4 separate regions of the Homo sapiens genome follow, and all the other regions are linked to region 3. The links come from fine-mapping of genetic effects on gene expression. A gene starts in region 3. Each other region holds a variant in brackets. All regions are shown on one strand. Distances are between the middles of the regions. Region 1 has its middle 180 kb from the start of CENPW. Region 2 overlaps LOC105377989 (a long non-coding RNA gene). Region 3 holds the start of HINT3 (histidine triad nucleotide binding protein 3). Region 4 overlaps TRMT11 (tRNA methyltransferase 11).

Region 1 (8,232 bases), 210 kb after region 3:
GACTAGAAGGAAGGCAGAGATGATTCTGGAGAGGTAAGAAGGACAGCGATCTCAACAATAGGAAGACTTCATGCTGAAGCATTGTTCTACTCGCTCCTCCTGGTGACTGTGTAGCTGTGTTTCTAACTCTCCTTCCCTCAGCATAAGCTCTTGCCAGGGGTCTCTTTAGTCAGATATACTCTTGACCAGCATTACTTCCTTTTCTCTTGACCCTCCTGCTTACCACCCTCACAGACATGACGAGACCTGTTTAATCCCAAACTGAAAACAGCAGACACTCTGACCTCATATGCTTTTACTGAGAGCTATAAAACGTGTTAAAGACTAATGATAATTAGAACTTCATCTCCATCTCCAAACAATAATCTTCTTTTAGGTGAAGCTAACAAATGATTGGTTGACAGGAGCCTGTCAGAAAACTCCTATTTAGACAATTTTCTTCAAGCAAGAAGAAAGAAATAAAAGTACAGAAAGTTTAGAAATAAAAGTACAGAAAGTTTAGAAATCGAAGTACAAATCGGGGTGAGTCAAAAGGTCAAAACTTAATCTGTGGCACACATTGGCAGCCACCACCTGGTACATCTGGTATTATGGTTCTTTTTATTATTATTATTTTTAAATATTTTATTATACTTTAAGTTCTGGGATACATGTGCAGAATGTGCAGGTTTGTTACATAGGTATACATGTGCCATGGTGGTTTGCTGCACCCATCAACCTGTCATCTACATCAGGTATTTCTCCTAATGCTAACCCTCCCCTTGTCCCCCAACCCCCCTACAGGCCCTGGCATATGATGTTCCCCTCCCTGTGCCCATATGTTCTCATTGTTCAACTCCCACTTATAAGTGAGAACATGTGGTGTTTGGTTTTCTGTTCCTATGATAGTTTTCTGAGAAAGACAGTTTCCAGCTTCATCCACGTCCCTGCAAAGGACATGAACTCATTCTTTATTATAGCTGCATAATATTCCATGGTATATATGTGCCACATTTTCTTTATCCAGTCTATTATTGATGGGCATTTGGGTTGGTTTCAAGTCTTTGCTATTGTGAATAGTGCTGCAATAAACATATGTGTGCATGTGTCTTTATATTAGAATGATTTATAATCCTTTGGGTATATACCCAGTAATGGGATGGCTGGGTCAAATGGTATTTCTAGTTCTAGATCCTTGAGGAATTGCCACTCTGTCTTCCACAATGGTTGAACTATTATTTACACTCCCACCAACAGTGTAAAAGCATTCCTATTTCTCCACATTCTCTCCAGCATCTGTTGTTTCTTGACTTTTTAATGATCGCCATTCTAACTGGGGTGAGATAGTATCTCATTTGTGGTTTTGATTTGCATTTCTCTAATGAACAGTGATGATGAGCTTTTTTTTCATATGTTTGTTGGCTGCATAAATGTCTTCTTTTGAGAAGTGCCTGTTAATATCCTTCACCCACTTTTTGATGGATATCAAAAGTGGATATCCATCTGGATATTAGCCCTTTCTCAGATGGATAGATTGCAAAAATTTTCTCCCATTCTGTGGGTTGCCTATTCACTTTGATGATAGTTTCTTTTGCTGTGCAGAAGCTCTTTAGTTTAATTAGATCCTATTTATCAATTTTGGCTTTTGTTGCCGTTGCTTTTGGTGTTTTAGTCATGAAGTCTTTGCCCATGCCTATGTCCTGAATGGTATTGCCTAGGTTTTCTTCTAGGTTTTTTATGGTTTTAGGTCTTAAGTTTAAGCCTTTAATCCATCTTGAGTTAATTTTTGTATAAGGTGTAAGTAAAGGGTCCAGTTTCAGTTTTCTGCATATGGCAAAGCCAGATTTCCCAACACCATTTATTAAACAGGGAATTCTTTCCCCATTTCTTGTTTTTGTCAAGTTTGTCAAAGATCAGATGGTTGTAGATGTGTGGTGTTATTTTCGAGGCCTCTGTTCTGTTCCATTGGTCTATATATCTGTTTTGTTACCAGTACCATTCTGTTTTGGTTACTGTAGCCTTGTAGTATAGTTTGAAGTCAGCTAGTGTGATGCCTCAAGCTTTGTTCTTTTTGCTTAGGATTGTCTTGGCTATGCAGCCTCTTTTTTGGTTCCATATAAAATTTAAAGAAGTTTTTTGTAATTCGGTGAAGAAAGTCAATGGTAGCTTGATGGGACTAGCATTGAATCTATAAATTACTTCAGGCAGCATGGCCATTTTTATGATATTGATTCTTCCTATCCATGAGCATGGAATGTTTTTCCATTTATTTGTGTCCTCTCTTATTTCCTTGAGCAGTGGTTTGTAGTATTCCTTGAAGAGGTCCTTCACATCCCTTGTAAGTTGGATTCCTAGGTATTTCATTCTCTTTGTAGCAATTGTGAATAGGAGTTCACTCATGATTTGGCTCTCTGTATATTATTTGTGTATAGGAATGCTTGTGGTTTTTGCACATTGATTTTGTATCCTGAGACTTTGCTGAAATTGCTTATCAGCTTAAGGAGATTTTGGGCTGAGATGATGGGGTTTTCTGAATATACAATCATGTTATCTGCAAACAGAGACAATTTTACTTCCTCTCTTCCTATTTGAATACCCTTTATTTTGTTCTCTTGCCTGTTTGCCCTGACCAGAACTTCCAATACTAGGTTGAGTAGGAGTGGTGAGAGAGGGCATCCTTGCCTTGTGCTGGTTTTCAAAAGGAATGCTTCCAGTTTTTGCCCATTCAGTATGACATTGGCTGTGGGTTTTTCATAAATAGCTCTTATTATTTTGAGATACTTTCCATCAATACCTTGTTTATTGAGAGTTTTTAGCGTGAAGGGGTGTTGAATTTTATCGAAGGCCTTTTCTGCATCTATTGAGATAATCATGTGGTTTTTGTCATTAGTTCTGTTTATGTGATGGATTACTGATTTGCATATGTTGAACCAGCCTTGCATCCCAGGGATGAAGCCGACTTGATCATGGTGGATAAGCTTTTTAATGTGCTGCTGGATTTGGTTTGACAGTATTTTACTGAGGATTTTTGTATCAATGTTCCTCAGGGATATCGGCCTGAAATTTTCTCTTTTTGTTGTGTCTCTGCCAGGTTTTGGTATCAGGATGATGCTGGCCTCATAAAATGATTTAGGGAGGAGTCCCTCTTTTCTATTGTTTGGAATAGTTTCGTAAGGAATGGTACCAGCTCCTCTTTGTACCTCTGGTAGAATTCGGCTGTGAATCGGTCTGGTCCTGGGCTTTTTTTGGTTGGTAGGTTATTAATTACTCCCTCAATTTCAGAAATTGTTATTGGTCTATTCACTTCTATGCATAGAGGTGTTTATAGTATTCTCTGATGGTAGTTTGTATTTCTGTGGGATCAGTGGTGATATTCCCTTTATCATTTTTTATTCTGTCTATTTGATTCTTCTCTCTTTTCTGTTTTATTAGTCTGGCTAGCAGTCTACCTATTTTGTTAATCTTTTCAAAAAGCCTGCTCCTGGATTCATTGATTTTTCGAAGGGTTTTTCATGTTGCTGTCTCCTTCAGTTCTGCTCTGATATTAGTTATTTCTTGTCTTCTGCTAGCTTTTGAATTTGTTTGCTCTTGCTTCTCTAGTTATTTTAATTGTGATGTTAGGGTGTTGCTTTTAGATCTTTCTCACTTTCTCCTGTGGGCATTTAGTGCTATAAATTTCCCTCTAAACACTGCTTTAGCTGCATCCCAGAGATTCTGGCATGTTGTGTCTTTGTTCTCATTGGTTTCAAATAACTTATTTATTTCTGCCTTCGTTTTGTTATTTATGCAGTAGTCATTCAGGAGCAGGTTGTTCAGTTTCCATGTAGTTGCACCTGTGTTGAGTGAGTTTCTTAATCCTGAGTTCTAATTTGATTGCACTGTGGTCTGAGTAACTGTTTGTTATGATTTCTGTTCTTTTGCAGTTGCTAAGGAGTGTTTTACTTCCAATTATGTGGTCAGTTTTAGAATAAGTGCTATGTGGTGCTGAGAAGAATGTATATTCTGCTGATTTGAG[G/A]TGGAGAGTTTTGTAGATGTGTATTAGGTCCACTTGATCCAGAGCTGAGCTCAAGTCCTGAATATCCTTTTTAATTTTCTGTCTCATTGATCTGTCTAATATTGACAGTGGAGTGTTAAATTCTCCCACTATTATTGTATGCGAGTTGAAGTCTTTTGTAGGTCTCTAAGAACTTGCTTTATGAATCTGGGTGCTTCTGTATTGGGTGCATATATATTTAGGATAGTTAGTTCTTCTTGTTGCATTGATCCCTTTATCATTCTGTAATGTTCTTCTTTGTATTTTTCTTTTAATCTTTGTTGGTTTAAAGTCTGTTTTATCAGAGACTAGGATTGCAACCCCTGCTTTTTTTTGCGTTCCATTTCCTTGGTAAGTCTTCCTCCATCCCTTTATTTTGAGCCTATGTGTGTCTTTGCACATGAGATGTGTCTCCTGAATACAGCACACTGATGGGTCTTGACTCTTTATCCAATGTGCTAGTCTGTGTCTTTTAACTGGGGCACTTAGTCCATTTACATGTAAATTTAATATCGTTGGCTGGGTGCAGTGGCTCACGCCTGTAATCCCAGCACTTTGGGAGGCTTAGGTGGGCGAATCACAAGGTCAGGAGTTCAAGACCAGTCTGGCCAACATGGTGAAACCCCGTCTCTACTAAAAATAAAGAAAATTAGCTGGGCGTAGTGGTGGGTGCCTATAATCCCAGCTACTCAGGAGGCTGAGGCAGGAGAATCACTTGAACCTGGGAGACGGAGGTTGCACTGAGCCGAGATGGGTGCCACTGTACTCCAGCCCAGTGATAGAGTGAGACCGTGCCTCAAAAAAAAAAAAAAAATTGCTATGTGTGAATTTGATCCTGTCATTATGATGCTAGCTGGTTATTTTGCCCATTAGTTGATGCAGTATTTTCATAGTGTTGATGGTCTTTACATTTCAGTATGTTTTTGCAGTGGCTGATAATGGTTTTTCCTTTCCATATTTAGTGCTTCCTTCAGGAGTTCTTGTAAGGCAGGCCGGCTTGTGACAAAAATCCCTCAGCATTTGCTTGTCTTTAAAGGATTTTATTTCTCCTTTGCTTATGAAGCTTAGTTTGGGTGGATATGAAATTCTGGGTTGAAAATTCTTTTCTTTAAGAATGTTGAATATTGGTCCCCACTCTCTTCTGGCTTCTAGGGTTTCTGCAGAGAGATCTGCTGTTAGTCTGATGGGCTTCCCTTTGTGGGTAACCCAACCTTTCTCTCTGGCTGCCCTTAACATTTGCTCCTTCATTTCAACCTTGGTGAATCTGATGATTATGTGTCTTGGGGTTGCTCTTCTCAGGGAGTATCTTTGTGGTATTCTCTGTATTTCCTGAATTTGTATATTGGCCTGTCTTGCTAGGTTGGAGAAGTTCTCCTGGATAATATCCTGAAGTGTGTTTTCCAAGTTGGTTCCTTTCTCCCTGTCATTTTGAGGTACATCAATCAAATGTAGGTTTGGTCTTTTCACATAGTCCCATATTTCTTGGAGGCTTTGTTCATTCCTTTTAATTCTTTTTTCTCTAATCTTGTCTTCATGCTTTATTTCATTAAGTTCACCTTCAGTCTTTGATATCCTTTCTTCCGCTTGATCGATTTGGCTATTCATACTTGTGTAAGCTTCATGAAGTTCTTGTGCTGTGTTTTTCAGCTCCATCAGGTCATTTATTTTCTTCTCTAAACTGGTTATTCTAATTAGCAGTTCCTGTAACCTTTTATCAAGGTTCTTAGCTTCCTTCCATTGGGTTTTTGGAATTTTCAGCCTTTTTGCTCTATTTTTAATTCATCTTCATGGCTTTATCTACCTTTGGTCTTTGGTGTTGGAGGTCTTTGGATGGGGTTTTTGCATGGGCATCCTTTTTGCTGATGTTGATGCTATTCCTTTCTGTTTTTTTTCCTTCTAATAGTCAGGGCCCTCTTCTACAGGTCTGCTGGAGTTTGCTGGAGTTCCACTCCAGACCCTGTTTGTCTGGGTATCACCAGCGGAGGCTGCAGAACAACAAAGATTGCTGCCTGTTCCTTCCTCTGGAAGCTTCGTCCCAGAGGGGCACCCACCAGATGCCAGCCGGAGCTCTCCTGTATAAGGTGTCTCCCAGACAGGATGCACGGGGGTCAAGGACCCACTTGAGGAGGCAGTCTGTCCCTTAGCAGAGCTCGAGCGCTATGCTGGGAGATCCACTGCTCTCTTCAGAGCCAGCAGGCAGGAGCATTTAATTCTGCTGAAGCTGCACCCAGAGCTGCCCCTTCCCCCAGGTGCTCTGTCCCAGGGAGATGGGAGTTTTATCTATAAGCCCCTGACTGGGGCTGCTGCCTTTCTTTCAGAGATGGCCTGCCCAGAGAGGAGGAATCTAGAGAGGCAGTGTAGCTACAGTGGCTTCATGGTGCTGCGGTGGGTTCTGCACCCAGTTCGAACTTCCTGGAGGCTTTGTTTACAGTGTGAGGAGAAAACTGCCTACTCAAGCCTCAATAATGACCAGTGTCCCACCCCCCACCAAGCTCAAGTGTCCCAGGTTGACTTCAGAGTGCTGTGCTGGCAGCAAGAATTTCAAGCCAGTGCATCTTAGCCTGTCAGGCTTCATTGGGGGTGGGATCCACTGAGCAAGACCTCTTGGCTCCCTGACTTCAGCCCCCTTTCCAGGGGAGTGAATGGTTCTGTCTCGCTGGCATTCCATACACCACTGGGGTATGAAAAAAACTCCTGCAGCTAGCTCGGTGTCTGCCCAAATGGCTGCCCAGTTTTGTGCTTGAAACCCAGGGCCCTGGTGGTGTAGGCACCCGAGGGAATCTCCTGGTCTGTGGGTTGCGAAAACCATGGGAAAAGCATAGTGTCTGGGCCAGATAGCACTGTTCCTCATGGCACAGTCCCTAACAGCTTCCCTTGGCTAGGGGAGGAAGTTCTCTGACCCCTTGCACTTCCCAGGTGAGGTGATGCCTCACCCTGCTTCTGCTCACCCTCCATGGGCTGCACCCACTGTCTAACCAGTCCCAATGAGACGAAGTGGGTACCTCAATTGGAAATGCAGAAATCACCTGCCTTCTTCTTTGATCTCACTGGGAGCTGCAGACCAGAGCTCTTCCTAGCCATCTTGCCAGCCATCTGTTATGGTTCTTAAAACATTAATTTGCTATTGTGTGTTCAGCTTATCTAAAAAATAAAGTATGGGAATCAGTGAATTTTGAGGAGAAGGCAATGCTCTTATGTGTGTGTATATGGTGTGTGTCTGTATTTGTGCCTATGGATAATCATTAGTTTCTCAAATGTATGCAAGTGATACAGCACATATGTGTATTTCCCAGTCTTCATACGCTCAACAGACCAGCCTTCTTTTTCCACCTCGGACATATGTTTCTGGGTAGGTTTCCTGATTTGTAATCAGTCAGCCTCTGATATTCACTGTGACTTTGGTTTCCAGCCCTGTCTGGAAGAACTCCAGCCTGGGAGAATGTAAACATTTTATTCAGAAGCCTGTGATGTTGGAAAGAGGAGGTTTTGGATGATTTTTGTTTTTGTTTGGACTTGGGTCAGTGTCTCCCATTTATAGCTGGAATGTGAACTGCATGGCTTCAGATGTGTTTTGGAAGATTGATGTGGGCCTCATGAAACTCAGCTACAGTGGAGCCTCAGGAGACTAGGAGCTGGTTATCATATTAAGAAACACATTTCTTTTTATCAGTGAATATTAATGCTGAACAGTGAAGCTGTGGAACTCCTTCTCTTACACCGGCAACCTCAGCCCTCCTAGAAAAGCTGTGTAGTCAGAACCAGTGTTAGGGGGAGTTCTTTATGGTTTCTCCAACAGTCGTTGATACTGAGTAAAAAGGGACTACCCAGGGGATTTCAAGTCAAAATCTAAGAACTAAACTTATTTCTGTTAATGATATGAATGACATGTCATTGGTGAATGGAAAGAAAATGCTCTCAATATATGGAGCTATAGGAATAAATGCTAGAAGTGAGGCTAAGTTTTTGCCAGCTGTATCCTACTGATCATATTGGCCATTATGTTAGAATTGCCACTTTCCCTCTCCTTGGATGAAAAGAGGTCTTATTTTATTTTTCCAAGAAGGAGTCTTGCTCTGTCACCCAGGCTGGAGTGCAGTGGCGCGATCTTGGCTCACCGCAACCTCTGCCTCCTGGGTTCAAGCGATTCTCCTGCCTCAGCCTCCCAAGTAGCTGGGATTACAGGAGTGTGCCACCTCGCCCAGCTAATTTTTATATTTTTA
Region 2 (8,232 bases), 980 kb after region 3:
CCCTGGCTGGCCTTGAACTCCTGGGCTCAAGCAATCCTTGAGTGGAATTACATGGTATTTGTCTTTTTGTGACAGGCTTATTTCACTTAGCCAAATATTCTCAATGTTCACGTATGTTGTAGCATGTGTCACAATATTCTTACTTTTTAAAGCTGAGTAACATTCCATTCTATGTGTATACCACATTTTGTTTATCCATGAACACTTATTGGCTATTGTAAATAATGCTGTGATGAACATGGGTGTATAAATATCAGTTTGAGTCCCTGTTTTTAATTATTTGGGGCATTTACACAGAAGTGGAATTGTTGGATTGTGTTAGTAACTTTATTTTCAGTTTCTGAGGAATCGCTGTACTATTTTCCACAATGGCTGCACCATTCTACATTCCCACCAGCAACACATGTACACAAAGGCTCCAACTTCTTCACTTCTTTGCAAACACTTACTATTTTCTTCTCTTTATTTTGATACTAGTCATCCTTATGTTTGTTAGGTAAACTTTTCTGAGTTTAAATAACTTTACTATATAGGAGGGACATCCCAGAGTAGGTATTAATTAAAAGGAGACTTTCTTTTTATTTATCATTATATTTCAGAAGAAATTTTCCATGTAAATGTTGAGTCACTCCCATTGTTCCTGTAATTATCTAAAATTCATTCAGATTGGTATAGCAATAAATCAAACTAGAAGATTTAAAGAGAAGAGAACAGAGGTTTTGTTTTGATTTTTTTCTTCTTTCACCCATGGAGGAAATTATTCATGATTGGATCTAGTGGAAAGAGTTCAAATGATTATAAACTGAGACATAATTTTAGTGACTTACATTTTCTTTTAGTGAGAAGGACCTGTGAGGAAAATTAAAGATATTAAGATAATCTGATTCAAGTATGAAAAATTCTACCCTTGAATTAAAATACGTGATTACTTCAGTTGATCAAGTTGCCTATTTACACATTTTAAAAATCACAGAAAATGATTGATTCAAGTGAGTATTTGATTGATTTCACCATTGTACTATTTATTAAATGTTAACACTTCATAATTCTTCTTTCTGACCCTTTGGTGATTCATGCCTAGCCTGGAGTTAATAAACAAAGTTTCTGGTGCTTAGGAAACTTTTTTCTTTAACATTCTGTTTACCTCCCTTCAGTTCAGCAAAAGCTTACCAAACAGACATCATGGGCAAGACATGTACAAAATGCACAGAAGAATAAGATGTCATCTACACTTTTAAGAGCTTGTAATCCAGACAAGAAGGAACATGATAATCATTATTTTAACCATTTAAAAATATAAGAGAAGATTGGATCGATATGGCAGAAAGAAACATACATTTCCACCTATTCTTATGCCTAAAATACCATGAAATCAAAGAAAAATTGTATCTGTCTCTCTAACAATTTCTATATTGATATCTATCTATGAATACAGTAAGAGAAGGAATAAAATAAACTTTATTGTAACAATTTCCAATTATGAAAAGAGGATTGGAGCAATATGGAAGAAGGAACATGTATGTCCAACTGCTCTTCTGTCTAAAATGCCATGAAATAAAAAATATATTTATATTTAGATAACGAATCTGCAGTAGCTCATGAAAAACAGGAAAGAGGTCTGAAAGCTGTCTACAAAATCTGAAATATTTTTATCTTTCACCCAAAATCACAAAAGCAGTTTATGATTAAATATAACTAGAACCCATACTGAGGTGGGCAGAGTACTCAAAAAATATTAATAAAACAACAAAATTACTAATAATTTGATGAAAACCAAAACAAAGAGACTTCACACAAATAACAAAAAAAAGAAAACAATAATGAAAAAGAGATACAATAAAGAAAATAAACTTTTAGTATAGAATTCTGTATCGATAAGATATCAAATAAAGATTGTGGAAATACAAACTAAGGTAGTTGAAATGGAAAAACAAAAACAAAACCCTCTATAAATTGATTAAATAGAGAATGGGTGCAGCCAGATGCTAAATCTGTGAGCTGGAGAATGGAACCACGGACATCTCCCAGAACATAACACTAAAGAGCAAAGAAGTGGAGAGGATAAGAGAAAGGTCAATAGACAAAGAAAAGAAATTCCAACATCAATTTAATAGGAGTTCTAAAAAGAGCAAAGAGAATGGAATGGGAGAAATGACAAAGAAATCATGAAAACTAAAGAAGAAAATTTTGGATCTAATTGCACAGCTGAAAGGTCTTAGAGTGCCAAGAAAGACGAATAAAAATAAACACCTAGGCCACCATACTGAAGTTTTAGAAATTCAAAGATGAAAAGAAAATCCTACAAGATTTAGGAGGGAAAAGAATTAGTTAACTACAAGAAGCAACCCACAAATCAGATGAACAAGAAATTATCTCCTTTGCAATACTGAGAGGTAGAAGATAATGGTGCTATATCTTTAATGTTATCATTAAGAAAAAAACAACTGTTTTTGAACCTAAAATACTTAACTACATTGAAATTCAAAATAGCAACATTTAGAAATGTGTAATGAGTCAGAAAGTTTGCCAACCATAGTTCTCTGAGAAAATTACTCAAGTATAACACAGGAGAAAAAGAGCCCAAGGAGTAGGAAGAAGCAGGCTAGCAGAAAAAGTGGTGAGTCAAGAAACCAAGAAAGCCATTTTAAATACTTGCTGAACTGTAGCTTAAAGAAATCAATTAGGAATCAAATTCTGGAATAAAAATTCCAATGATTTTAACATAGGGAGATGATAAAGGTGATATTTAATCACCAAAAAAGCATGTTAAAGTGTTAAAGTGATACATTAAAATACAGAGCTGATCTAGTTTTTAAAATTAAGCTATATGCTATTTACAATGAGATAGTATATAGCAGACAAACAAATTAACTTTTATGCCTATGACAGCATAGCTATATGTTGACAAACTCATAGAAATATATGAAAAAATATAGTATTATAATTTGAGAATAATATGCCCATAATAAATCAACAGTATACAAAAAATAAAAATGCAGAGGCTTTAAATGACACAATTAACAACTCTTATTTAATAGGTAATAAAGAAATTTACATACTAAAATCAGAGAATTCGTATTTTAAAAAATAAAATGAATTCAATAATTCACAATTTATAAGGCCCCAGAGAACAGAAAAGATAGCAATTAATTCTGACTGAAAGGGGAGAAGATATAGAATATTCCAGATACACTAAAGTATTCCAGGAAGAGTGAACAGTACGTGCAACGCTTATCCTTCAGTTTCTGCCCAACCCCATTTCTCTAAGTAC[A/G]CTGTATCCCTTGTGGCTCTTTAATTACTCCCTTGTGGCTCTTTAATTGCTCTCAGGAAATGTGTTAGATGTTGGACAAACTAAGTTCACAGCATTAATATTGTACCAGTGGAAGAAGAACAGAGAAAAGATAAGCATTCATATTTAACTTTTCCATCTTAACTGTCACTAGTGCCCTGAAATATGCAATAAACAATGTTATTTTTAGTTTTAAAACACTAGAGATAGGTGACAATAGTTTGGATTTGTGTCCTTGCCCAAATCTCATGTCGAATTGGAGAAAGGGCCTGGTGGGAGGTGACTGGATCGTGGGGGCAGATTTCCCCTATGCTGTTATTGTGATAGTGAATGAGTTCTCACGAGATCTGATGGTTTAAAAATGTGTGGCACTTCCCCGCTCAGCTTCTCTATCCTGCCAACCTGTGAAGAAGGTCCTTGCTTCCCCTTCACCTGCCACCATGACTGAAAGTTTCCTGAGGCCTCCCAGCCATACTTTCTGTTAAGCCTGCATAACTGCAAGTCAATTAAACCTCTTTTCTTCATTAACAACTTAGTCTCAAGTAGTTCTTTATAGCAGTGTGAAAATGGACTAATACAATAGGTACAGGTATGTGTGTATTTATGCATATATGTATATATGTTCATGTATATATACACACATACATTTACACATATGTGCATATATGTAGATACATATATGTGGGTGTTTTGTATATATATGTATAAACATGCACACATATATTCATATATATGCATATATGTATTATGTATCTGCATGTAAGTATATATATCATTTTCAATATATATAGAGAAAAATATTAACAGATATTCAACCAGGATTGTAAAGTAAAGCCAAGTGAATAATGAGCAACTATTGAATTTAATTGATAGGTCTCAATTACCTATAAGATATGTAGCATTATTCTTTAAACTATAGAATGGTATGTTATCACATGTAAGTGTTGTGTTTGCCATCCATGCCTATAATATGGTAAAAAGTTTCAAAAAGCAGTTTAGTGAATAAGACTGCTCTAGTGTACAATAGCAAAATTAGAACTATTAATTGCAGTAATAGTATTGAGGAAAATATTATTCATACTTCATAATACCAAGCTCATTATAACAGATATTCTATTAATTTTTTTTTTTTTTTGAGATGGAGTCTTGCTCTGTCACCAAGCTGAAGTGCAGTAGTGCAATCTTGGCTCACTGCAACCTCCGCCTCCCGAGTTCAAGCGATTCTCCTACCTCAGCCTCCTCCTGAGCAGCTGGGACTACAGGCGTGTGCCACCGTGCCCAGCTAATTTTTTTGTATTTTTAGTAGAGACGGGGTTTCACCATTTTGGCCAGGATGGTCTCAATCTCCCGACCTTGTGATCTTGCCGCCTTAGCCTCCCAAAGTGCTAGGATTACAAGCGTGAGCCACCATGCCTGGCCTGGTATTCTATTAATTTATTGACTCATAGAATATGCCCATCAATGACCTCAAAGGTCAACTATCCTCAGAGATTTATCAATGATGTTGCATTGTAATGCTCCAAATAAAATGCGACAAAATACAAAGTTCTGTGTAAACCATTGTTGCTAGCACAGAATAAAAAGAAAAAAAATGTTTTGAGATACATTGGAAGGCATATACTGCTTGGACTCTTGCTGACATGGCAGAACTCACTCTTCAAGGGAAGAGCTTACACTTTTTGACTCTATAAATATTTCTTGGTTTAAAGAAAACATTGTTCTCGAGTCTGTCTGTAGTCCTACCATTCCAAATAATATAATAGTGAATAACTACCGCACCTTCATTCAGTAAGTTTTATGGACATGATAGGGCAGGGAGGGAGATGACACTCCTAAGAGTAGAGCTATGGACTGAAATTGTGTTCCTCCAAATTCACATGGTGAAGCCCTAACTGCCACTATGATGGCTTTTGGAGATGGAGCCTTTGGGAAGTAATTAGGTTTAGCTGCGGTCATAAGGGGGCCCTCATGATGGAATTAATGCTTTTAAAAGAAGAGACACCAGAGAGAGATGGCAGTCATCCATAAGCCAGGAAGAGAGTCCTTACCAGCCCTTGACCATGCTGGCACCCTGATCTCAGACTTCCAGCCATCACAACTATTAAGAAATTCATTTCTGTTGTTTAACCCACCCAGTCTATAGTTAGAATGAGATAACTAACACAAATAGTATCATAAACTAGCCAAGGACAAGAAAAATGTTCTGGGTTAGCTGGCTTTGCTTATATAAGGATGAACTTACCTAGATGAAAATTCATATATGAAATACATACTTTATACCTCATCACAGATAAAAACACTCAAATAAGAACCCCAATAAAATAGTGTCAAATGACACCAACAGAGATCTATAAATGCAAACTTTCTTGGTAACCTCCCTGATTGCACTAATCAAGTAGAATAGCATAGATCCCATGTCCTACACTGGAACCTTATAAACCTTGCTCTTGGCCAAATTCCCAGTAGCTGCTTTCATCCAGGTTTCTGTGCGAGACCCCAGAGACAGCCTTCTTAACCTGCACAAACCCACAGTAAGCACGAAGCTCTAAGAAGTCCTTGCCAATATATTTTTTCTAGCTTTTGTGCAAATATGAATGAGACAAAAGGTGTCTCAGAGGTGCAGCAAGCCCATTAATTCTGTTTCTGTGGCCAACTTAAGAGGATGAGAATCTTTCTAACAGAGGGTGTCTTACATACCGTACAGTCCTCAGTCATCTAGCTCTCCTGCACATGCAGAAATCAACTTTGAAACACTAGATGCCTATGACTGAAAATCTTTCCTCTTTTGAATCTTTTGTGTTGTACTTTAATCCTCTTCTCTCATTTTTCCATAGTTTTTATATTTAATCGTCCTCCTGCAATATTTCTCCTCTTTTTTTCTCATGATCGTTCTGTTCATTTTTTCTTTTTACATCCATTTTTAACTAATCTGCTTTTTTAGCTTAAAAAAATTTTTGTCTCCTCATCCACTAACTTGAAACCATGTAAATGGTTGCATCTTATTCATCCTAAAAACGTCCTATTTTTTCCCCATCTTTCCAAGAATTCCCAGTTCCTCACATTGTCCACAGAACTCCTGTTGTTGTGGGGTTTTGGGACTTTCTACTAACAAAGATTACTTTTTCCACCCCCATGCTAGAACAAGATTAAAGACCAGGAGTAGGGTGAGATTAACAGCCAGATGAAGTTGAGAGGGAGAATAAAGTAAGAAGTTAGGGGGAGTTGCTTCTCCTCACTGAAAGGATGGCTACTTTTAGGGTATCAAGCATGGAGTCTTTATGGATTACCCTGGTTCATTCCCACTGCACCCCACTGAAGCCTACATCTTTTTTATCAAAATTAAAGATGTGTGCCTACGAATATTTCCCATACGAATGATATTTGATTTAAAGATATTTTCTGAATCTGAACACTTTACCATGGACTCCTTAATTGCAATAAAATTGATGAAAAAGTACCTCGGAATATCAGTAGTCTATCAACCTGTGATTCACTCCAAGAGAGGAAGAAATTAGACATTTAAAATTTTACCAAATGCAAAGCTTCATGTTTTAATATTCAGAGTCTCCTGGAAGATTGTGTAAAATGCTGGTTGCTTGCCAATAGATGATACTGGGATGCTGAAAGTTACTCCAGAGAATAAAGACTCCCAGATTCTGAGATCTAACTTTGGCCATTTGTTTAACTAATGAAATGTCTTGGGGTAAAAAGTTTTTCTGACTACAAAAAGTTTGTCATGCAGCATAGTGAAGCAGCACACACAGTGGTTGGAGCAAAGACTGTGTTCCAATACTTTTCCTGACTTTGCCATTCTTATACGACACTGGGCAAATTACTTCTCCTTGCCTCAATTTCCCCATCTGTAAAATGGGGATAACACTGGTACCTATTTCTTAGAATTTTGAGAGAATTTAAAGATAATTTAGAACAGTCCCTGGTACATAAGAAACACTAAATATAATTTAGCTATTATTTTTAAGGCTACCTCAGTAGTCTTCCTTAAAACTATATGGAATCCCTCAGGCATAATTCTGTACCCCTGCGCAGTCATTTAAAGTTACAAGTTTTTCAATACTTAGGGGAAAGATCTTCACCCCTGTCCAGAAGCTGAACAATATATTAAGCATGTCCTAGGGCATGGTTTTGTGACCATGAAGAAAGAAAAAATCTGGAATCAGAAATGCCAGAGTTTTAAGTTTTATTTTTAAGAAACCATTAACCAATGATTTTTATTCATTAATTTTAGTAATTATAAAATGTGAAACATGAAGGCTGGCTGAGCTAAGAAAGTGTGTAGCATCAACTTCGAATCATGAACACTGGTTATTGAAATATGGATTTTGTTATTCAATAAAATTACAAATGCAGTAGCTTATTTGGTACCTACATCATGATATGCTTCTAGGCAGTTATGCATAAATAAGAAATTAATTTGCTAGCATTGCATTTATACTACTATATCAAAATTTAGCTACTCAGGAGGCTGAGGCAGGCCATTCACTTGAACCCGGGGGGCGGAGGTTGTAGTGAACCGAGATCATGCCATTGCACCGCAGCCTGGGTGACAGAGCGAGACTCCATCTCAAAAAGAAATGCTTTTTATTAATTTTTGAAGAGGCTGCATGGATTTAAGACGGCAGACTCGGGAGCTAAACTGCTGATACTTGAAACCCACCTCCACTACCTACTCGCTCCATGAGCTCTGGCAACTTACTTGACTCCTCTCTCTACCTCAGTTCCCTTATTGTAAATGGAGAAATAACTATACCTCCCCACTGGATTGTGATAATAACACCTAGAATAGTGCTGGACACGTAGTAAACTCCCCTAAATTGTTAGCTTACATTATTATTTCTCACTTAGTATTTTTTTCTGGCCAACATTAGGTATAAATATTAATGATTTTATTTTAAAACTGCATGGCATTTTAATGGTCATTTAAA
Region 3 (8,232 bases):
CTGACAGGAGGCAGTGTGAGAGAGAAAAGAAGACAGATTGGGAAGCAAACAGATACCTTTTTTGAGGAGTTTTGTTGCAAAGAGGAGCAGAAAAATAGATCCATGAGTGATGGGAAAAGCAATGTTCAAAGCTGGTTCTTAGAGTGTGTTACTGATAACAATAAGATTTATATCCATATCCTAAATTACTTTCAAACAAGTAATTTGATGTGTCATTCTGATGGTGGCAGGAGGCAGACAGGTTCCTAGGTGGGAAGGGGCAGGTCCCGGGTGAAACCTCAACTTCAAGCCAGTGACAAGCCAGCTGGGCCTGGGCTTCCAGCTCCGGGTGAAATCCATGGCCTGGAGTGAAGGCTACCCACTACAGATCTCCCTGCTGAGAGCTGTTCAGTTGCCCAGTAAAGCTCTTCTCCACCTTGCTCACCCTCCAGTTGTCCACCTAACCTCATTCTTCCTGGATGTGGGACAAGAACCTGGGACCTGACAAATGGCAGGAGCAAAAGGAGCTGTAACACTTTCCTGGCCAGTTCATTGAGCTGCGGGTGGGAGCTAAAAGGGGCTATAACACTTTCCTGGCCAGCTTGCTGAGCTGCAGGCGGTGGCATGGTACTGGCTGCAGGAGTGAAACGTAACAACCCTTCTGGGGGCCCAGACCTTGGGAATCCCTGTGCCAGAGCTGTAACACTGTAGCCTTCCTGCCCTCTGCTGGTGCCAGGTGGCCACCCCATGCAACAAGAAGCAGTGGAGGGGCAGGGCCAGCCCAGGAGTCATGGGCCAGAGCAGGGCAATGGGACTGAAAGAGTCTTTACACAAATCAGCTGAAACACACTCCCCAACCCCGAACATGAACCCCTACTTGCTGCGCTGCAGTAGATGTGAAGGAGAGAAGAGCTGTGGCCCTTCTTGGAGCCCAGATCTTGGAGCTCCCTGAGCCAGGGCTGTGACATACTGTAACACCCTCTTTGGGGCTTTGTGGTTCCTGGCATCTCTGAGCTTTCCAGCATCACCACATTTCCCTCATCCAGATGCTGGTGCCCGCAGTGGAAGCCGCTTGCGGTACGTCTGGTCCAGCCGCAACCTCATACAGAGTCAGCACCTGTGCGGGTGCCTGGAGCTGCCTGCCCCTCCGCAGCAGCCAGCATGCCTGGCTGTGTGCAGTGGCCAAACAGCGTGCTTGCACACACACCCCTCGCTGCTCTGCACCTGGCTTGCCTTTGGCAGGTGTGGGATCCAAGGCTGGTTGTGTGAGCTGAGCGCAGCCTGCTGGTCCGAGTGGGTGGAACAAGCCCAGTGGGCATGAGCAAAACTCAAGCAGAGGGGCTGCTGGCCACAGGGGTTTCCAGCTGGTGAAGCACCACCTGAAGCATCGGTGACAACTCTACATGCAACATGATCACGCATTAGGCATCATTATTATCCCCATTTTATAGATGAATGAACAGAAAACCTCCGCACAGGAAGATAAATAATTTGTGTCTCAGCAGAGAAAGGAAAATAACATAGCCCAAGTTTTTGCAGATGGTAAGTTGTAGAGTAGTCTGACTCCAGAGCCTGCTCTGAAGCAGGGCTCCTGCTAGCCCATATGGTAGCCCTGTGAAGTTAGCCAATAGCACCTGATTTCACAAGCAGATTTTAAGTTAGTATATTGTTATGGAACTGGAATGGCTGTTCCCCAGGAGGGTTATCCAGAACACCCACTGGCAGTAGTCCTGCCTATGTACATACAAGTGCCTGTATTTTTGCCTGCTTCCACACAGGACACATCGTCTACACAATTTTCAAGTACTTCATGTTGCTCCCCTCACTTCCAAAGTGGGAAAATTATCAAGTTCAAAGCTGAGGAATGAGAAGCAAGCCTTGGAAAGTCCCAGGTAAGTGAGAGAAGAAATCTCAGGTGTCACTAGGAGTGCAGTCAGAACAGATGCAACTTATGCTGGTGTGTGTGCTAGTGTGTAAGTGAATGGTCTCCTAACTGTATGTGTGTGGCCATATGCACCCAATGGGGGTTTATATACAAATCAGCTTTCCACCGCTCCAGAACTTAGCCTGGAATCTCCAGTTCTGTATGTGCTTTTCCATAAGTTAATACATGTGTATGATATGAATCAGCACACTCTTATCTGTAGTATCCTTGCACACTGTGAAACCTGAACACTCTCATGCTGTGACCTTGCTCCTAACCATTCTTCATTAGAAAATTGTTAAATGTCTACCTCCATGCAAAGCACTGTGTTGCAGGATTATTTAGGAATCAGAAAGACCGAGGGGTTGAGGAGGATTTATTATTTAGGTGCACCGGCACAGTCAGATTAACATCCGCTGAGCCCCGAACAAAGGGTCAGGTTACCTTTTAAGCATTTCGTGGGCAGGGGGCAGTTGGGGGGAGATCTGTGCAGGGGGAAGCATATTACAGAAGTAAGAAAAATGACAGTTATTTAATTGAGATATGCATTACATAATTTCTTACTTTTCAAGGAAAAACATATTTTATGACTTGAGTTTATCTGTCTAGTGACTTTGCAGCTGCACAGCTAGAGAAACAGGGTCTTCACAATGCCTGGGAAAGGGAGAGATAAGGCTCACTAGCCACAGATAGAAAAACAGGCAGTTAATTTTTAAAGGACTCTACCTCTTTCTCCTCCTCAGGGGGAACTGGGTTTTCTTACATACAACTGAGTTTTTGCTTACATATTCTTTAATTCCTGTTCCAACTGTACTAGGCATTATGGAAGATTCACACACCCAATCTTGTTGCCAAGAAACATAATTCCTAGCAGGATAAATAAGTACATAAATAGCTATAAGATACAAAGAGACAAATCCTACAAGAGAAATATTGAAAACCTGTTATATGAATTTGCAAGAGGATGTGCTTATGTCAGTTTGGCTAAAGAAAATTTCATGAAGGAGGTAGCATTGGAGGGGTGGCTTGGAAGGTAGAATTTGGAGTGAAGAGATGGAAACAAGAATATTTGAGAGAGAACTGTGTGAATAAAAGCAGTGATGTGAAGGTGTAGTACAGGCATGGAAATTGTGAATACTAAAATTTGGCAAAACTCTAATGTATTGATTCTGAACTCTGCTTTGGGGTGCTGAAAGGCAGTGAAGCTATTGTAGTGGTTCCCCAAACTACGGGCCAACTACAAAAAGGAATGAAAAATGTCTTGAATGTATATGTACAACAATTCAAAACACATACAACCACTTTTTATTACAACATAAATCCATTAAAAATCATTACTGAATTCCCAATTTGTTATGTATTTTCTAAATCAGCAAATACCAAGGGTGTAACTACTATAGTGAGCTAGTCCAACAAATTTTTTGGTGTTAAAAAAGGAGTGCTGTATGTCAAAAAGGTTGGTGGGTTTTGGAGTTAGACAAACCTTGATCTTAAACTCTGTCACTATTAATTAGTTGTGTGGGACTGGGCAACTCTGAGTTTGGTCCTTCATCTCTAGAGCGGTGGTTATAAAACCAACCTTGCGTTTTTTGACAATTAGAGAAATATATGGCATGTTTTAGATGCTCAGCAAGTGGGAAGTATCACAAAACGAAAAGCTGAGGTCAAATCAGAGTCCACCTTGAACACCAAGCTAAGGAACTGGTACTTTTTCTTTGAGCACATAGTTACAGAAGGTTTTGTCTGAGTGACAGGAAAATCAATAAGTAAGTTAGAAGGTGATTGCGTTGGTCTAGGTGAGGCATTATGAGGCACTGGCATTGAATTTCTGGGATATTTCAGAGTATTGACTATAGGACTCCACATCTACTTGTATATGAGGAATGTGAGATTAAAAAAAAGGTCGCTAGTTTGATCTAACTGTGCTGTTAACAACAATAAAAAGTCAACAGAGATGTAAAGGTCAGTTTTGGACATTTTGAGTTTAAACTCCTACAATTATCGTGGCTGAAAAAGCAGCAAACATGATGTCTGTTGAAAACAAGGCTTTAGGAATTTTGCTCATTCTTTAAAAACCTACGAATTTTAAAAATCAAACTTTAAAAAACTTTTTGTTTTTTTTTTTAAAAAAACGGCAGCGTAATACAATATTTGGACACGCTATACTATGGGCTTTGAAGAACGCCTGTCCAGAACACCCAACAAGCTCCATTATGTCAAACGCTCCCGCGCCTCTGTGATGTCACCACGACGCGCTGGGCGCTCTGCGACTTGGCAGACGTCGTGCGTCATTACCAACGAGGCGCAGGGGTCAGGACGACTCTCGGCAGCGCCATTGCGCGCCCTCTAGTGGCAGCCGGTTTTGAGGCCGGCCTCCGGCTTTGAAGTTCCTCACCGCGTCTCCTTCCCTCTCCCCAAAGCCTGGATCACCGCCCAGCGTCAGGCGAGGGGCGACGTCTCGAGGTAAAACGGAGGAGGTGCGGGACGCGGAGACTGCGCGGGCCCGGTAGCCCTGGAGAGGCCGAGGCTCTAGGCCGCGAGGGGCGGGTGCAATGGCGGAGGAACAGGTGAACCGCAGCGCCGGCCTGGCCCCCGACTGTGAGGCCTCGGCGACTGCAGAAACTACGGTTTCCTCAGTGGGGACCTGTGAAGCCGCTGGCAAGTCACCAGAGCCCAAGGACTACGACAGCACCTGCGTGTTCTGCCGGATCGCGGGGCGGCAGGACCCGGGCACCGAACTCCTGCACTGCGAGGTGGGCGGCGACGCGCGGCCGGGGGTGGGTGAGGACCTGGCCGCCCCTCGGAGCTCCGGCAGGGAGGCCTCGCCGTTGTGGAGCGGGTGCAGAGGATCCCGATCGCTACTCAGCTCGCAGAGGCAGGGCCGCTCTGTGTGGATGGGGCTCGGGGAAGCTGGGGATACGCCCACTACGGGCCTTTCTGCAGGGTCCGGGTGCTGATGACAGACTCACTCCTAGGGGACTGACAGGCAGTGGCTCCAGCGGTATCTTTGCTGTTCCCAGGGGCAAAGAGTGAATGACAGGGCCGAATGCTTTGGCCTATGTTTGCAGGTACCCAGGTAGTTGGTACAAATAACATTTTGTGGCCTCTGCTTTTATTACAAGGATTCTTCTCCACCTTCAAGATACTGATTTTAAATCCTGCACACTCTAATACCGATACTGATGAGAAAACTAGTAGAAAATAGGTAATGATAATTGTGGAAAGCTGTTTGTTAGATTGGCAGAAAATAGGCTGGAGGGAGTGGGTCTGAGGTCAAACTATTATTGAATTGCCTCTGAATTCCACTGTCAGTTGGGATGCGTGGACATTTTCAGAGCATGAAGACTTTGCCCAGATATTTTTAAACGGATAATCTGGCACACACTTTATTCTGTTGGTTTTACTTGTCCATATAGAAACAACTTTTTGAGAGAATTAGCTCCAAAGATTGTGTCTTTTGTAGTAAACATTCCTTTATTTTTTAAAAAATAAATATAATTCCTTCTAAGCACCTTGTTTTGGAGGTTTTTGAGCAAGATAAGGGACAGTCTGTGTCCCGATTTTACAATCTAAAGGGCGGAATGTATACAGAGGAGGTAGCCAGTTACAATGCCTCGTGCTGTGGTCAGGTGATTTTACAGTATTTTGTAAGCTTGTGGGAGGAGCATCTAACCCAGCTCTGAAGAATTAGGGAAGGCTTTCCAGAGGAAATGAGACATGAAGAAATAAGTAGGAGTTGATCAGATGAGGAAATGGAGAGAATAATGTCCCAGGTTGAGAGACCCCCCGAGAGGTTCAGTTTGTGTGATAGAAAAACTAACAGAAATTGTCTAACTAGTGCATAGAGTTTGAGAGGATGAAAGGCGAGGCTGGAGAGGTAAACAAGGGACCAGATTATTAAGTGTGTTGGAAGTCATGTGAAGGAATTTGTCTTTATCTGAAGAGCAAAGTGAAACTTCACAATGTTTAATGGTGGGTTGGGAGGAAGATGTTGCGGAGTTATAGGAAGGGGGTTGATCTTTGAAAGGTCATTCTGGCATCATTGTGGAGAATGATTTGGAGGAGACCAGTCTGGAGGTATGGAGACCCGTTAGAAGGCTAGTAGATTAATCTACCCTGATGATGGCCTGAAATGAGAATGTGGTAGAGGAGATTATGAAAAGTATATCAATTTAAGGGATACAGTATTCAGGAGGTAAAACAGGGAGGACTTGATGGATACAGGTCAGTGATTCTCAACTGGGGGCAATTTTGCCCTCCCAGGGTACATTTTGCAATGTATTGAGATACTTTTGATTGTAACAACTTCTGGCACTTCTAGGGGTTGCTTCTGGGACCTAAATAATGGATAAAAGCCAGGGTTGCTATTAACATGGTACAGTGCACAGGACAGCACCCCCACCACCCCATCAACACACACACATAAAACAGGCTTATCCAGCCCTCAAAATGTCAGAAGTGCCAAGGTTTAGAAACCCTGATTTAGATATAAGAGGATAAGGAAATGAAAGAGGGTGAAGTCAAAGATGATTTCCAGGTTTCTGGCTAGGGTAAACTAGTAGTGGTGGTACCATTTCATTAAGCTCGGGAACACAGGAGGAGAAAAGATGGCCAGGGGAGTGGTGGGAGGTAGCAAAGCGATGAGTTGAGCTATGGAGTTGTGGAGTTTGAGGTGAGTTTGAGGCATCTAAGTAGAGATGTCTTTTAAATGGTTGGATAGTCTAGCACTCTGTAGAGGGATCTGTATCTCTAACCCAGATTACAGGAACTGTCGGTTTATAGATGGAAACTGAAAAAGAAGGGAAGCGATGAGATCACCCATGAGGTAAAAAGTGAAGGGGAGGCCTACACAGAACTCTGAAGAACACTAACATCATAAGGGACAGACAGAGGAAGAGGACCTGGAAAGGGAATAGAGAAGGAACAGAGAAATAGAAGGAACGCTGGAAAGGCTAAGAGAAGGGAGTATGTCAAAAAGAAAGGAATTGCCAGCAATGTCAGCAGCAATATTAGCCTGCCTTCATCCTCAAATCTGGGTTAGATGACCCTTGTATGTCCTTGCAGAGTCAGAGCAGGACTGGTTGTGTCCCCAAAGTGATGTTCATTGACCTTGAGGAGAGCAATTTCATGAAGTGGTGAAGCAAAAGGCAGATAGCAGTTGATTGAGAAGAACTTGGGAAAGGAAGGAGTGAAGACAGCAAATACAGACAACTCTCACAGGAATTTGGCAATCCAGGGGAGGAGGGAAAGGTAGTGGTAGCTACAGGAGAAGTTGGGGATTAAGAGAAAGCTTTTAAAACAGTGAAACCTTTTGTGTGTTCAAATCCCAGTGGGAAGATGCCTATAGAGAGAGGTTTAAAATGGCCCGGCGGGTAGAATGTTGACCCTGGGAAAGAGGAAACTCATTCCTCACTCTCTGTGTGCCAGGCACTGTTGGAGGCATGGGGATACAGCCGTAAACAAAACATGCAAAACTCCTTGCCCTTGTGGAGCTCACATTGTCGTTGCAGAAAAGGATAATAAGCAAAACAATAAGTAAAATTTATAGTTTATTAGATGGCAGAAAATAAAGAGGAAGGGGATGCAGTTTTAAAATTTTAGTCAGGAAAATCTGCACTAAGCAGGTGACATTTGGGTTAAGCCTTGAAAAAGGAGAAGGAGCAATTATATGGTTATATGGTTATTTACAAGTAAAAGGTTTGAAGTAGCTCCTGTGAAGGCTAGGAGAGAGAATTAGGGAAACAAGGATTGTTGTACAGCGGGTCACGTGAGGTTGAGGACATTCAATTTCAGGTCATACCAGTCTGCTTAGTTGTGTGATTTTCTTCCCACTTTCCAGCAGCAGCCAAAGGCTGAGATTACACAAGGTAGGCAGTTGTATTGACCCAGGGTTGGGATTTTGCCATGTGGTTGTTATAGAAGTGTAGTGAGACACAGTTAAGAAGTTATGGAGCCGGGCGCAGTGGCAAACGCCTGTAATCCCAGCACTTTGGGAGGCTGAGGCAGGCGGATCACGAGGTCAGGAGTTCGAGACCAGCCTGGCCAATATGGTGAAACCCCATCTCTCCTAAAAATACAAAAATTAGCTGGGTGTGGTGGCAGGCACCTGTAATCCCAGCTACTTGGGAGGCAGAGGGAGGAGAACTGCTTGAATCCAGGAGGTGGAGGTTGCAGTGAGCCAAGATCGCGCCGCTGCACTCCAGCCTGGGTGACAGAGCAAGACTCTCTCTGGGGGGGGGGAAAAAAAAAGAAGTTAGGGCAAGCAAGTGGCTGAAGTGGTAGACCATGGAATATATGCTGAATAGGAGAAGGAAGTAAAGACAGCACCT
Region 4 (8,232 bases), 54 kb after region 3:
AGTTTATATAATATTCTCTTTCGCATTTTTTTCCCACTACCCTTTGTAGTCCCCTTTTCCTGGAATCCCATGGTTCGTCTAGTAGGAGTCCCATTGTCTAGCAGTATTCTTTTGCTCGGCCTGCTAATTTAATTTATTTAAGTAGAATTCTTTTTTTAAAAAAGATAAAATAGATGCAATAATATTGCCATTTTTCTTTCTTTTTTTTCTCTCAGCAAAACCAAAGCCCAGTCTCTCATTTCTCCACGTTTGCAAAGCTTTCCAGTTAGTTCTTTAAAGATGAAAATCATGAATTAGTTTTTACATCATGGAATAAATTCAATTCTTATTGTATTATTTTGCCTGTAAGATACTACCCTAACCTTAAAGTGCTTACTATTTAAGTAATGAGAAATTGAAACACCGAGTTGCTAGCATAGATCACATATGCAGTATTTTTACTTTTGGTAACGCAAAAAGAAATGGGTGAGTCATGTTACTTGCCTCCTTGACACTTCACTCTCCTTTTTTTTTTAGCACCCCTTCTTCCACCAAAAAGATCCCCTAAAAAACTCCAACTGAGGTATAGCTAAATGTAAAAAGTGCTTCAATTTAATCAAAAGAACAACTAGATGACTACCAATGATTACCCAGTGACCAGTTCAGATAAGCTAATTTATTATGATTTTATTTAAAAAAAAATAAAAGCTTAAAGGGCACGAAGTTAAGTATCAGGTGCAGTCTAACAGATTATTCATCTCCTTTCAGCAGTGTACTTGTAAATTGGGTCTTCTCAAAACTCACTCTAACCAAATGGATAAGGTTCTGTTAAGGAAGCACAGGAAAGCTTTTCTGTTCCCCTTGACAACTAGTTCTTCTAGGTGAGTATCTGCCTTAATTGGCAGAATTGTAGTAATTCCTTGTAATTTGGGTGAAGTGACTTTGTGAGTATTCCAAGTCATCACTTATGCTGCTTTTTCTAAATATGGAATGTTCCATTTCCAGAGTCAGAATTATGAGGACTTTTTAACCTTCCCTCTCACATAAATGCTTTTTGTAGTTAGTATGAGAGGACATAGGTTTTGGTTTCTGCTGTACTTTTAGTCTTTCATTTCTCTTCTTCATGGGTTCTAAAAAGAACTAGTCAGTTATAATATTTTCATGAACAAAGTATTTTTAATTCCATGCTACCAGACTATGTTTTAAATGGCTATGGAAGGAACATCATTAATTTATGGATCTTGACCCTCCAGAGGCACTACCCATCTTAGTTACAGAGATTACATCTCAAAAGGTTATAAGGGAAAGAGCCCCAGTATTTTTTCCCCTTGTCCAAGTCTGTGCATATTTTGTAGTTGAAGAATATATTTATGATTTCAGCTTGACTAGCAGGCCTTCCTAGAGTATAGCTAATTAAGACTTGCCCAAGCACTAAAAGCATTTTAATTTGAATGATTAAAAAAAGTGAATTTAATTAAAAGTACAATTATTAAAAGTTCAGTTAATTGTGTACAATTTTTTCTTAATTTAAAAATAGTATTACCTTTCATTTTAAAGAGTTTCATTATTATTTTAACCTTTATTAAGATTTCTCTTCATGCATGAGCTGGTCACATCTGTCACATTACTTTGTCTGGTCAGATTGTATTGGGACAGTTGTTCTTACTTTGGTCACAGCACTAATAAAAACAGTTTATTAATTATTTTGTGCATGTTTGATAATAGTTACTCAGAAATTTGTATTTACAGTTTAAAACAGGAGATAATTACTTGATTGGTTACAGGAGTAACTATATTAAAATAGTTAATTCTTACAAAAATTAAAATATGTCCTAACCTTTTAATTTCTGTAAGAACTAATGTCTCACATAGTAATTATGCCCTATTTGTTTGAAACTCTGACTTCAGTGGGAATTGAGCCTAGTCATCAGAATTTATTCTGTTTATTGCCAGCTCTTTGTATAAACAGCCTTATATGCTCATTTTTAAGAAAGGAGCAAAATGTTTTTGTGTAGAGCTCTAAAAATAAGATGAAAATGTCTAAATATACATTATTTTGACCAAAAAAAAGATAAAATAGTGCTGTTTAAAATAATGATGCCAGGGTATACATTAATTTCTCTACTTTGTTACCAGTTTAGTGACTATAGCTTAGGGGTTTGTTTTTTCAGTCCTGAGGCTTACTAAATATGTTACGACCAATGTCATTCCAGGATACTCTGCCTGCAGCTAGTTTCTAAGACTGGATGAAGTTAAATAGGAACAAACAGGAGTTTGGGACTTACTGGTTAACAGGTCAAAATTGTGTGATTTTTCAGGTGGCCTGCTGATAGCATGTGCTCATTTTGGTGCATATGTGTATGGGACAGACATAGACTACAACACAGTTCATGGCTTGGGTGAGTAGAGATTATAGACAGTATTATAGTCATTGCTGTGGTGCCAAATGTACCTTTAAACATACAGTTGACCCTGGAAGAACACAAGTTTGAATTGCACAGGTCCACTTATACTCAGATTTATTTCCATCTCTGCCCTCTTGAAACATCAAGGCCAATCCCTCCACTTCCTCTTCCTCCTCAGCCTGCTCAACATGAAGGTGATGAGGATGAAGACCTTTATGATGATCCACTTCCACTTCATGAATAGTAAATCTATTTTTACTGAATAAAGTAAGTATAACAGTAGGCTGTTAGTAGTTAAGTTCTGGGGGAGTCAAAAGTTATATGCATATTTTTGACTGTGTGAGGAGTGGGCACCCCAACCCCATGTTGCTCAAGGGTCAACTGTAGTTTTATATGGCATTATTTTAATCTTCAAATACAAAATTGTGATATAATTTTACTTGTTTTTATAAGACTTCATTGGGTATCTACTTTTATGATCCATTGTGTACAGAGTGATTTCCTGGGGGAACATGAAGGTGAATGAGAAAAAGTCCTGCTCTCAGAGGGCTTTAAGGAAGTGCAGGAAAGTGATAACCCAGTGACCAGTTCAGACCTATAATTTATTAATTATAACTAATTAATAAATATACATGATAATGAAACATATTTGGTTAAGATTATCACCACTCATTTAAAGATTATCACCAAAATTATTCACTAATCATACATTGACTATATACTGGATTAATAACTAGTCTTTGAGGTACTATTTATGTTTCTAATTTTATAACTGACCAAAACCTCTTTAAAGTAACTTTAAAGATTCTGCCTTGAACTGAGAGTACTTGAAACAGTCATCTGCTTTACTTTTCAGGTAATTATGGAAAATATTTTAAACTCTAGAAGCTTCAATAATGATGTGTGATTGGATGGAATTGAATCAAACTGAAAAAGTATTTCCTTATAGCTTAATGGTATTGAAAATGTCATTTTATTGATGATTTTGAGATTATTTGTGTTTATGTTGGTATTCATTATAATAACTGGGATCAGCCCTTATAATACTCTTTTCCTTTTCCTCACCCAGTATAAGTTATTGTATTGGTGAGCATTTATTATACTTTATTTTCTTTTGTGGAAGTAATTTGATATCTTGTACTGGTGACCTGTCTTTTTCCCTACCTTGACTGTAAAGAATTTAGTAACATTTATTAGGAAAATGAGTTATAATTTATTAGGTGTATATAAATGGGCTAGCAAGAAAAAGATATTCTTTATCTGAAATCTGTTTTAAAAAGTACTAAGAATTATTCCAATTTGCTTTTAGTAGAAGCAGTATATTTCTTTTAAGGAAATTGTCTTATATAATTTACTTGAATTTTTATTTATTAAAGTTATGTTTGGAAACTTATGTTGTAACCTTCAGTCTACTGGGGTAGAATTCTGATTGAGGTAGTTCCCTTAGAGCTTATCCAAGATACTGTTAGGTATACCCTCTGTTTCCTGTGGTTCTGAACTCTTACTTTATCCTAAAATATTCTCAAGTTTCTCCTGTTTTAAAAGTACAAAACTTTTTTTTTTGGCAAATCTGTAGAGGTTCTCTAGCTACCACTTTGTTTTCCTTTTCCATTTGCCAAAATGCTTCTTGAAAAACTAGTATAACTTCTTGTCTCCTCTTCTTCATCTTTCACTCTCTTCTGGCCATTATTTTCCAGCTTCTGTGCCTATCATTCTGTTGAAAACGCTAACAAAGGCCACAGATTTATAGCATTTGACAGTGTTGACCTTCATACAGCTGCTCTTGGTTTCCTTGACAGTGGTCTTGGCAGGTGGTACTTTTACTTTTTTGTTTCTTCTCAGTCTACTTGATGCCCTGCAATTTTCTTTGATTTATGTTTATATATTGTTTTTTTCCAGGCGTCTACCTATCTTTGAGCACTTCTCCGTCACACTGCATGTTTTTCAGAGTCATGTCGTTCTTCTTTTGATTTTATAAGAATAATTATAGAGCAAACATGTAACTGCCTCCTAAGTGAACAAAAAGAATGTTATTCAGCCTTATGGAGTCAGTATAAGATTATATGCTGATAACTCCAAAGTCTGTATATTCTGGCCTTCAACTACCTGCTGAATGTCCCCACTGCGTATCTTTTTCTGAAAGTTCTGCAGGTACCTCAAGGTACATCAAGATTGATATATCTTAAATGAATCTAATCTTTTTTCTTAAGCTTGTTTTTCTTCCTGGTTTCTCTGATATTAATCACTGGTGTCATCATCCTAAACTATCATGTCTCCTAAACAAGGAACTTACGAGCTTCTTTAGCCTTCCTTCCACTCCCACTTTAACTTTCATTAGCAATGTCTCCATTTTGCCTCCCTTC[C/T]TCATGGTCACAACTGCGGCATTTCCCAAGTTCGCTCTCTTCATTTCTGTTTCATTTATCTGATTCATACTATCTCTACACAGGACTGTTTACTGCTGGAAGAAAGGAACCATATTCTCTTCAACTCTATCTTACTACAAAAATCTTCGTACTTGAAAATATCGAATGAGTGTTTTAAGGCAGTTTTACTTGGAAGTTGACAGAACAAGATAAGTTAGACATCAGTACATTTTACTGTTATGTTGAAATTAAAATAACTATTTACTTGTATACATAAAATTAAGATTTTAAATGAAAGCAAATTTTGAATAAATGTAGGTTTCAGTGAGTTAAAACATTACTTTTCCTAAATGACAGAAAATAAGAATACTCTGTTTAATACTTTCTCTCTTCCTTTTTCTTTCCCTTCAGGAAAGGCTACTAGGAAAAACCAGAAGTGGAGAGGACCAGATGAAAACATTAGGGCCAATCTTCGTCAATATGGTTTAGAGAAGTATTACCTTGATGTCCTGGTTTCAGATGCATCTAAACCTTCCTGGAGGAAGGGCACATATTTTGATGCAATCATTACTGATCGTAAGTTTATTTTTATACAAAAGTAGGAGTAGGATTCGTTTTGTAAAATCATTTACATTTAAAGTACAAAATTTACCAACACATGCACAAAATGCCAACTTGTCAGTATTTCTCCCATCTACCCCCAGCTTCTTCATCTTGTAAGGAGAAAGTTATGAAGGTACTTAACTACCTTGTTAAGGGCTTACTGTTTTGTTTTTTTAAACAAATATATTGGCTTGCCATCCCCTGTTATATCCTTTTATATTAACTTGTCACCCGTTTTTCCCTTCAGCTTATTTTTTTGAGGCATATATTTAGTATTTGTTTTTGTATTGACTATAATTGGTTATTATACCAACTGGAGCTCACATGTCATTTGCAATTATGGTGTCAAATTTTGAACAGAGTTTCAGATATCACACATTTCTCTATGTGTAAGCATTTGTGTTTTTGTAGTGCCTGTTTTCACTGGCATCTCCTTTCTAGCATTACAAGAAATTTGGGGTTCTGTGGAACCACTGGGCCTGTGAACCTACTGAGCTTCAGGAATGTGCATGAAAATTTATTTTCCCATGCCTCATGAGGTCGTGAGTTTTTTAGGCAGCCTATCTAAGAATAGATCTGCCTTTTCTATAGTATTTGACAGTAAATCTGTAAAAAGTGGCAAAGTTCAGCCCTTCTATCTCAGCTCTCTTTAGTTCTTTACTAACTTAGATTTTGTCAAATGTAATGTAACAAAAGAAAAATTATCAAGGCCTTATGGTTTCAGTGTGAATATACTTTATGAAAATTTAGTTTTTTTTAAATTAACAGTTTGCTTTATTATTTGCTCTCCCACTCTGTGTTTACTTATATAAAATACATTTTTTTTTTCCGATCAACTTGAGAGTAAGTGGTATACATTGTGGCCTTTTACTCCTATACTTCAGTGTGTATTTACTAAGAATAAAGATAGTCTCTTAGCAAAAATACAGTTATCAAGTTCAGTAAATTGATAAAATACTTTCATCTACAGTTTGCCATTCAGTTTTGTCAACTGACTCAGTAATAGCTTTTATGGCATATATTCTCCCTCTAGGACAGGATCTACTCTAGAGTCAGGTATTGCATTTCGTAATGATATCTTTTAGGCCTCCTTTAATTTGTAACACTTCCACAGCTTTTCTCAATGACTTTTATGACATTGACATATTTTAAGAAGACAGTTGCTCCTCTCCCAAGTCTTTATGTTGTACATTTTCAGTTGGATTTGTGCATTGGTGATGTTGTGTTCTTCTCAGGGTGTCACATTTGAAGGCAGCATGGCTGTTTGCCCTTGATCCATGATTTGGTGACTTTTGACTATCTGTGTTACCTTTGTTTTCTGTCTAGCTCCATATGGTATCAGAGAATCTACAAGAAGAACAGGTTCACAGAAGGAGATACCAAAGGGGATAGAAAAATGGGAAAAATGGTAAGTGAAATTTAAATATGATGTGTTACTACCTTGAGAAGAGGCATGTGGCTTCCCCGTTAACTTAGCACTCTTAAAATTTTTCACTGATTTTGAAATTTTCTTTTCTTTGTGTAGTCCAGAAAGCCATGTTCCTGTTTCCTTGAGTTATCATCTGAGTGATATGTTTCTTGACCTGTTAAACTTCGCAGCTGAGACCCTCGTTTTAGGTGGAAGACTAGTCTATTGGTTACCGGTGTATACGCCAGAGTATGTAATCTTAATTTTATTTTTAATTTCATTTTTCTTACAATGTTTGCGTATCTAGTATAATTTTCTCTTTATCTCTTCTTGCATTTGGTGCATCTTTATATTTAATTTGTAATAGCCTTTGTTTGCCTTCAAATGTGTATAAAATAGTCTTTTTATTTATTTAGTTTTTTGAGACAAGGTCTTGCTCTGTCACCCAGGCTGGAGTGCAGTAGTGCAATCGTGACTCACTGCAGCGTTGACCTCCCAGGCTCAAGTGATCCTCCCACCTCAACCTCCTGAGTAGCTGGGACTACAGGCATGCGTCACCATGCTCAGCTATTTTTTATTTTTATTTTTTGTAGAGGTGGAGTCTCACTATGTTGCCCAGGTTGGTTTTAAACTTCTAGGCTCAAGCAGTCTACCTGCCTCAGCCTCCTGAAGTGTTGTGATTATAAGAGTGAGCCACTGTACTCAGCCTCCTTCTTTTCATCAACTGAATTGTTTTGACCTTGTTATTTTATATCAGGGGTTGGCAAACCACGGCCTATGGGCCAGATATGGTCCTCAGCCTGTGTTTATAAGGTTCTTGAGCTAGGACTAGTTTTTAGATTTTTGAAGTGTTGTTAAAAAATATCCACACAAAATAATGTGTGACAGAAACATACAGTATGTGACCCACAAAATCTAAAATATTTACTCTCTGGCCCTTTATAGAAAAAGTTTTGCCAGCCCTTATTGTACCCTACACTTAGCTTAGTACCTATGGATCACAGCTGTTTTATAGCTCTTTTGCCAGTCTATAGATGTAATTTTCAACAGCTTAGCTAAAGGATTCACGCTTCTGCTACCTTCTAATGCTAGCTTTAATATATATTGGCTATTATGATTATCTTAAGTACAATAAATCAAAAGCTAAGACCAAAATAAGAGCTGTGCATATATTTAAAGCCCTGATTATGTTCAGCATTATTGCTTTGAGTTTTGTTATTCAGTAACTATTAAATATAAAGCTATATATATTAACAGTAAAAGACAAGACGTTTGAACAAGATGGAATGTTTAAATTTGAAAGGTATTGCCAAGCTCAGTAGGTTATTTCTTCAATCTGACATAGATATATTTTTAATACAATTATTTTAATTCCTATATTTGTATTTGTATTTTATTTTATTTTATTTATTTTTTGAGACAGGGTTTCACTTTGTCACCCAGACTGGAGTACAGTGGCACCATCTCAGCTCAC

The links. PIP is the estimated chance that this variant, and not a neighbour inherited with it, causes the effect.
Region 1: its variant is the best candidate, but not a certain one, in a credible set for the expression of HINT3 in whole blood (TOPMed, PIP 0.87).
Region 2: its variant is the best candidate, but not a certain one, in a credible set for the expression of HINT3 in whole blood (TOPMed, PIP 0.71).
Region 4: its variant is the best candidate, but not a certain one, in a credible set for the expression of HINT3 in subcutaneous fat (TwinsUK, PIP 0.74).

Annotation. Positions count from the first base shown.
Region 1 is chr6:126,160,468-126,168,699 of GRCh38, forward strand. It overlaps a transcript of TRMT11 not described here. Among named protein-coding and RNA genes, the nearest start is that of CENPW, 180 kb to the right of the region's middle. The variant G/A (reference allele first, on the strand shown) is at 3,995.
Region 2 is chr6:126,935,050-126,943,281 of GRCh38, forward strand. All of the region lies in intron 7 of LOC105377989 (a long non-coding RNA gene), which reads right to left. Among named protein-coding and RNA genes, the nearest start is that of RSPO3, 180 kb to the right of the region's middle. The variant A/G (reference allele first, on the strand shown) is at 3,272.
Region 3 is chr6:125,952,523-125,960,754 of GRCh38, forward strand. HINT3 (histidine triad nucleotide binding protein 3) reads left to right here and starts at 4,248. Exons shown (of 5, transcript NM_138571.5): 1 at 4,248-4,656. The coding sequence starts at 4,456. RefSeq lists enhancers at 4,261-4,360, 5,421-5,470 and a silencer at 4,531-4,750.
Region 4 is chr6:126,006,095-126,014,326 of GRCh38, forward strand. It overlaps TRMT11 (tRNA methyltransferase 11), which reads left to right. Exons shown (of 13, transcript NM_001031712.3): 8 at 2,298-2,378; 9 at 5,159-5,323; 10 at 6,677-6,758; 11 at 6,876-7,007. Among named protein-coding and RNA genes, the nearest start is that of TRMT11, 24 kb to the left of the region's middle. The variant C/T (reference allele first, on the strand shown) is at 4,748.